Linked DNA regions of Homo sapiens. The protein of the gene in region 2 purifies or fractionates together with the protein of the main gene of each other region. This does not show direct contact. Each region holds a gene or a part of one and is shown on either strand. Other genes may lie near its edges.

Evidence for each region.
Region 1: the proteins of ATP2A2 (region 2) and SLN purify together in Homo sapiens (affinity purification with western blotting; 2 studies listed by BioGRID). This does not show direct contact.

What each region holds. Positions count from the first base shown.
Region 1 is NC_000011.10:107,710,671-107,714,583, forward strand, and holds the start of SLN (sarcolipin), read right to left. Parts: upstream 1,387-3,913; 5' UTR 1,293-1,386; intron 1-1,292. UniProt on the Homo sapiens protein: Reversibly inhibits the activity of ATP2A1/SERCA1 and ATP2A2/SERCA2 in sarcoplasmic reticulum by decreasing the apparent affinity of the ATPase for Ca(2+). Also inhibits the activity of ATP2A3/SERCA3.
Region 2 is NC_000012.12:110,279,162-110,283,074, forward strand, and holds the start of ATP2A2 (sarcoplasmic/endoplasmic reticulum calcium ATPase 2), read left to right. Parts: upstream 1-2,085; 5' UTR 2,086-2,628; coding exon 2,629-2,746; intron 2,747-3,442; coding exon 3,443-3,460; intron 3,461-3,551; coding exon 3,552-3,634; intron 3,635-3,913.

The DNA.
Region 1 (3,913 bases), on a different chromosome or scaffold from region 2:
CAATTTAGCTTTCTTAGAATTAATGTTGAAAATGTTCATTCTCTAATATCTGGCATTTCACTTCTACCTTAAGACAGTCAAGGACGTGCGTGCCAGGTTACATAAATAAAGAGTTCACAGCAATATTATCACAATAACTCCAAACTGGAAACAACTCAAATGTTTATCAACAGCAGAATGGATGATAAATTGTGGTATAGTTATACATTTGAATTTCATAAAGCAAAGAAAATATATGAACTATAGCTACACAGAAAATGGGTAGATCTCACAAATATAATTGTTGGGTGAAAGAAGAATTTACAAAAGAAACAGAGAATATGACTCCATTTATATGATGTCAAAAATAGGGAGGTTAATCATATTGTTTAGGCATGCAGACATAGATGGTCAAATTATAAAGAATAACAGGGACAAGAGGATCCCAACATCTTGGGGCAGAATGGGGGTTGATCAAGAATGGGCTTCTGGGTGCTGGCAATGATCTGTTTCTTGACCTGGATGATAATTATAGAAGTGTTGCCTTTCAGTTATTGTTTAAACTGTGTATGTTTATGCACTCTTAACTTTTTTTTTTTCAGTCATTTCTGAATTAGCAGGCTACCCATCACACTTCTTTCTTTCTTGGGATTTACCTCTTACTACTTCTTGCACTTTAATGGTGACCTTGAATATTTGTTGTTTTATGTGATTTTAGATGAATAAAACATGAAGAGTTAAGGTGAGAATTTCTAGTGAATTCAATTCAATCAACACATATGCTAACTGTAAGGTGTGGTGTGAACATTCCTTTCACACACATTTATACACTTTAGGAAGAATGAACCAGTTAGGCAGAAATTCAGATCAGCCAAGTTCCATTTTTCTGCTTTTAACCAATAAAGACACTTTGGGTTTCATTTTAAACATTCCCTGAAGTCAAGGTCATGCCATATGATCCAGTGATTGCAAATGGATGAACTAAAACCCAAAAAGCTCTGAATAAATTGTGCAGGAAGTTTGACATTGGCTTTCTTTGAATGGAGACTTAGAGAAGATAGAAAAAAGACCATCTTCCATAATACAAGAAAGAAAAAAAATTTTTTTTTACTAGGAAGGGAGAAAATGCATACCCTTAGGAGAAAAAAAAAGGAAAACAGAAAGCAATAGTACTCACTTTATATCTTAAGGCATGCTGTATCCAAGGGGCATTGCCTATTTCATTAAGAAATGCAAACATTCCTCTGCCTTTCTCATTTGCAGCTTGTACACACACACACACCGTATGCTAAGCATAAAAATCCTGCAGTTACCTGAAGAGGATCAAAGACACACCCTGGCTATGGCAGGTTTCTCCTCGCTGTCTCCAACTTGAGCTCCAACTCCTTCTCCCCTCCCAGGCTGTCTGGACTCCTGGACTCTGGGCAGCGCCTAAAGTAGTCCGTGGAAGCTGGCAATCACTGTGATGTCACTGATGAAACATCTCAAAGGAACACCCTCCGAAGGTTCGAGGCTATTTGTGTTCGGGGGACATGGAAATATGTTGACTAAGACTTTGTTCCTTTGGCTGCCAATTTGCCACCACCAGGATTTAAAAACCTTCTGTTTCCAGTTGACTTTTAGTGCAATTGATGTGGGTTTTAAATGTGTCTTTTACATCTTCATGAATAACTTTAACATGTCTTTAAAACATCATAAACCAAGAATGATAGACTAATTTTAACCAATCGATGCTGCATTTGACTGCTCTCCCTAGTCAGCCTGTGAGGTGTAAAAATGTGACTTCATTTTACCACCCATATCTTTAGTTATTTGAAATGTGAAGAGTTTGCTGCCTTACACCCACACATATGCACACCCATACACACACACACACACTCCAGAATTCAATAGGCATCTTTAGCTCTTTCAAAACTGACTTTAGTCCAAGCAGTGAAAGCTATCCCCTCCGTCACCTGCTCCACGTAACTTTCCAGCTAAGCTGTGCATTGCAAGTTTACACGTGGATCTACAGTTTCATCTGAAACAGCCGAGGAAGTCATGGTTTGTATATCTCTGGCAATAAATTAATAGAGCAGTAAACTCACACAGTTCAACTCAGTTATTTGGATAGATTGGGAGTGGAAGGAGAACTGGGTAAAATTAGTGAAAAATGTGAATTATAGAATATATCTGAAAGAAAGAAAAGTATTATATAACTTTCTAATATGAACACTAACTAAAATTAGACTAAGATGAGTTTGTAACCAATGTATCACATGTTTGGAGCCCCTGAAGTGTTAAATTAGACTTGAAAGCAGATCAATTAAGTACTTTAAACATGACCCTAGCAATTGTGTTTGCTCAGCAGATCCTTTCTTTATAGATAATAGAGGAAATCTCCCCCTCTGAATTCCCAATTAGGGTCAATCAAAATAATGCATTCCCAAAAGGCATAAACAAACAAAATTCTCTATGCAGTTATGCTCATAGTCAAACCTTTCCCTCCATTCCTCATACCCCAGAGACATTACCAAAACAAGACTTTCCATTTCATTTCCTCATTTTAACATAAGCTTAGCAACGGGTAATCTTAATACAACATTCTGTCACCACTTGTCTTGTGAAAAGAGCGCTTGCTGAAGTGACAGAGAGTGTATAATAATTATAGTGCAACCGAACATTGGCAGTTATCTGTTGCCATCTGGCAAACTCCTTGAATGTAATCAGAGTTCTGTCTTCTGCCTCCAAGCTCTCACTAGATTGTTTCCCAGGCTGGGAATGTTTTTCTAGTTACCAAGCCACACCTGTCCCTTTTTGTAACCACTCAAAATTATTTTTTGTCAAATTAAAAAAGTTATATATTTATTGTAGGACATGTGAAAATATATTAAAGTATTTAAAACTTTTAAATTACTTTTAATCTCACCACCCAAAGGGGAAAAAAACAAAACTTTACTTTACTTTTTTTTTCTTTTGAGATGGAGTTTTGCTCTTGTCACCCAGGCTGGAGTGCAGTGGCGTGATCTCAGCTCACTGCAACCTCCGCCTCCCGGGTTCGAGCGATTCTCCTGCCTCAGCCTCCTGGGTAGCTGGGATTACAGGCATGCACCACTATGCCTGGCTAATTTTTGTATTTTTAGTAGAGATGGGGCTTCACCATGTTGGCCAGGCTGGCCTTGAGCTTCTGACCTCAGGTGATCCAACCGCCTCAGCCTCCCAAAGTGCTAGGATTATAGGTGTGAGCCACCGGGTGCCCGGCCTACATTACTTTTTATTCATCCGTTTGAGGCTGCATAGGCACAATCTCAAATTCCCAGGATATTTTTGGTAAAAGAATCTGAAACTTGAAAACCTTTTTTCTTAATTCATTTGGAATCAAATTATTTGTAGTATATCATGTGTTGATATTAGGTTTATGGGATAAGCATTTATTTTGTACATCTCAGATTATGAATTAGCTCTACAATATTTAAAATGTTAAATACAATAGCGAAATGTTAACGTATCACCAAAAGAGCTCTCCAATGTTGTCATTTTGTTGAATTGGTCAATTTCAAAGTAACTTAGAAGAAAAATTCTACTTCTTATTTGACCGAATTGATGGGTTAGTCTGGTTTGCCTCATTTAAGCATGTCTAAGCTGCACCAAGGACTACTGTGCCCAGTGCATTGACAAATTCCCAGACTTCAGACGCTTCTGAAAATTAGTGGTTTCTTCTGTAATGTCAAGAGATTGGGATTACACTTGGAATGTAGTTATCACTAGTTTAGCTTTACCCTCTCCAGAAACACATGCAAGCCGCCCCAAATCACCTGACAACTACTCAAAGGCATAAGGAGGGTTTAACCCTCAGGATCTGCAGGTTTGCTTAAAAAAAAAAAAAAAATCTTGTTTCCTGCAAGGAGCCAAAATAAAATAAAAATAAACTCAACATTATTTTACAAAATCAACA
Region 2 (3,913 bases):
TGTTGTTGCTCAGGCTGGAGTGCAGTGGCGTGATCACAGATCACTGCAGTCTTGACCTCCTGGGTTCAAGCGATCCTCTCTCTTTAGCCTCCTGAGTAGCTGGGACTAAAGGTTCAGGCCACCACGCCCAGCTAATTTTTTTCTTTTTTTTTTTTAGTAGAGATGGAGTCTCGCTATATTGCCCAGGCTGGTCTCAAACTCCTGGGCTCAAGGGATCCTCCTGCCTCAGCCTCCCAAAATGCTGGGATTACAGACGTGAGCCACTGTGGCTGGGTAGCCACTTTAGACAGCAAAGACATCTCTGAGGAGGGGACATGTAAGCTGCGATCTGAATGGAAAGAGAACGACACAAGTGAAGAAGATCTGTGGGAAGAGCATTCCATACAAAGGCTGAGGTCAGGAACTCCTCCAGAAGCTCATAATTGCACCAGAGGTGCTTACAACCCCAAGCAGTGACAGTGGCACAGAATATTCAACATCAAATGCCTAAGCTAATTTCCAGGCTGAGAAAGGTAAACCATCCTTCTCCTGCCTGCAGTGCTTCTATCGGTCCTGAAAGAGACAGAGGAGGTAAGGGAGAAGAATTGGTACGAAATGGTGCAGAGCTGGTCTCAGAGGGCAACAACAGCCAGCCCTCCATGACCACACTCCCACCGTGCACTCACGTGCCCCTCTTGAAGCGGCTCTGATCCTGTGACCTAACCAGTTTCCACCTGGCTTCTCTCAGTGCGTTGCCATATAGTATAATTTTTTGTTTGTTTGTTTCGTGTAGGGTTTTGTTGGTTCTTTTCCAAGTATCAATCAAAACTACATGCCAACGTCCACTCCTTGGAAATAATTAAATGACATGACGTGCCTGATTTTTTCAGCTGGTGATGCACTGTAATTTGCATCTGCTGAAGGAATTTATCTTAAGTCCTGAAGCCCAGCCACTTGAGACAACTGAGGTGATTTTTCTGCTCTGCTTTTGCTCATGCGGATGGTGCGTTATTGTTAAACACAAAAGTGGACTAATTGCTTCATTCTGCAACCTACTCCGTGAAGAAAGCTGCTCTTCTTTGTGAAGAGAATATGTTCATGTTTTGTTCATGAATTCCATGCAATTTCCCATCCCCTTGTTAAGTAATGTAGCTTCTTTATATTGGCAAAATTCCCTTTATCTTGCTGTGACCTGCGCTTTGTCCTCCCGAGCAGAGCAAATCATCTGTGGTTTAAGAGCAGCTTTGGATTCAAGTCCCCTTTTCTCCTGTCGAGGGAAGTGAGTCTATGAAATGGCCTTCATCTGAAAGCCACAGCGAAGCACCTCCTAGCCCAAGTCTAGCTGCTGTGTGGCAGCTCCAGCGGCGTGAACTGTGACTGCCCTGCAGACACCTATCAAGCGCTGCGTCAGCTATTAATAATAAAATCAACTCTTCTCCCTCCCCCCCGCGAGGGGGGTTCCCTCGTCAGGGCCCAGAACCCGCTGGGGAAGAATCGGGGCTGGCGTGCGAAGGAGCTGGCGGCAGGGGGTGTAGGATGCGGTGTTCCCGAGGCGACAGATGAAGGATTTGGGTTGTGTGGGAAGTGAACTGCGGAATTCCTCCCCTTGGTTTCTGAGGGGGGCTCTGAAGGAGCCAGATTAGGATGCAGAGCGCAGCCCGGGCGACCGAGGGCGAGGAGGCGAGCCAAGGACATCAGCCCGAGGGCGCCTCGAGACGCCCCGCGTGGACCGCGCTCCCAGCTCCTCGGCCTCGCCTTCCAACCATCCGCCCACCGGCCCCAGAGCAGCGTGCCCACTGTGAGCGCCCCACCCTGCGTCTGCAGGTGGGTGGGTCAGAGAACCGCAGGCACAGAAGAGGGTACCCAGCTTCCCCTCCGCCAGCCCCGCGACCGCGGCGCGCGCGGCCTCGATCCGGGTTCCTAGGGGCGGCGCGCGGGAGGGGGCGGGGCCTGCGCGGCAGCGTGGGCGCCAGGCGCGCGGGAGGAGGGAGCCGGGAGGAGGGGGCGGGGCCGCGCCGCCCGCGCCGCGCTGGGCGCTCTCGGCCAATGAGCGGCGTCCACATGCCGCGGCGGCGGCGAAAGGGGAGGCAGCGGCCGATAAATGCTATTAGAGCAGCCGCCGCGGAGCCGTCCCCGACGCCACCTCCTTTTCCTTCGCCGCAGTTTCCTCCGCCGCTGTCGGGCGTGCGGCGCTGAGGGACCCGGGCGAGCGCGCCGCGCACCGCCCCGCCGGCTCGCCTCCCTCGCCGCGTTCCGCCCTCAGTGGTCTGCCGGGCGCCCCCTCCTCCGGCCCGGGCGGGGCCTCTGATCGCCTCAAGAGAGCGGGGAGGGGGCTCGGGGGCCGCGGCCTGCCCTCCCGGCGGGCGGCTGAGGGCGAGGGAGGCCCTCCCTTCTGGCGAGGGGAGGGAGGGTGGGTCAGGAGCCCCCAACCCGCCCTGCGGAGCTCGGGGCCGCGCGAGGGGCGGTTGTCTGGGGGAGGGGGCGCGGGGTGATTCAGCGCCCGGCGAGGCGGAAGCGGCCGCAAGAGGAGGAGGGGAGAGCCCGTCCGCGCCTGGGCTCCCGGGGTGGCACGAGCCCGCGGCCGGAGTGCGAGGCGGAGGCGAGGAGGCCGCGGGGACGGGAGGCGAGGCCGGCCGGGCCCCCGAAGCCATGGAGAACGCGCACACCAAGACGGTGGAGGAGGTGCTGGGCCACTTCGGCGTCAACGAGAGTACGGGGCTGAGCCTGGAACAGGTCAAGAAGCTTAAGGAGAGATGGGGCTCCAACGGTAGGTGCAGGGCGCTCCGCTGCAGGGGCCCGGCGCGGCCGGGAGAGCCAGGGAAGATGGCTGACCGGGCTCCACCTCGTGGGCTTCGGCTCCGCGCCCGCCGACAGCTGCGGGCGGAGGGTCGGGCCAGCGCGCCGGCCCCGCGGGAGAGAAAGGGGCTGCGGTCCTCGCCTCGCCTTCCCTGGACCTCTTCGCTTCTCGGGCCCTCGACCTTTTCGGCGCGCAAGGCTCGGAGGCTTCTCTCCAGCAGCAGCCGGCCCCGGTGGAGGGAGGGACGTGGCTTCTGCAGCTAGGTTGAGCCCGGCAAGACGTTTTCTCGTCCCCTGCCGATTTATGAGGAGTCGAGGTCGTTGGAAGGCCTCTGACCGTTCTTGTCCTACCCAAAGTTACACATCTGGCAGAAGTGATGACATCGCTGAAACCACTCCTAGGTTCAGGAGCCCGAAGTGATTTCACGCTTAGGGCTAGACCTCAGGCCATTGATTACAAAGAGTGCATGCTTCCTTGAGATATCTTCGTGGTATGCCCTCTGCTAAAAAAATCGGATATTCTTATAGCTAGGTCTGTGTTTTAAAGATATTGATGCTTAGAATTGTAGCAGTTCTTTTTAGAAAAACGAAGTGCTAAAATGTCTCTCTCTTTTTTTTTTTAACCTCCCTCTTGACACATTGCTTGACGAATTTCTACATTCTACAGAGTTACCGGCTGAAGAAGGTAATCTTAACATGCTGTTTCTGTTTTTTTTCCTCTGTTGGTGTGCTGATGGTAAGATGACAGTTAAAACACATGTGTTTGTTTCTTACAGGAAAAACCTTGCTGGAACTTGTGATTGAGCAGTTTGAAGACTTGCTAGTTAGGATTTTATTACTGGCAGCATGTATATCTTTTGTAAGTATAAAAAAATTTATTTTCTTTCCCCCCAAAAGCTGAAAGTATTCCATAGATAAATCAGAAAACAAATGATGTCCATTGGGTGAAAACATATTTGGAGTTGCAAGCTGTGTCTCTATGTTTAAAAACAATCTGGGCATTTTAAAATTACAAAACAAAACACTTGAAGCCATTGGTATTCAGAAAATAGATGCCTGACATTTACAGTGTGGTTAGGAGTTGTCCCAGAGTGTGGCATGGTCTTAGAAATTCTTGTGGTTTATCAGCTTTTAATAT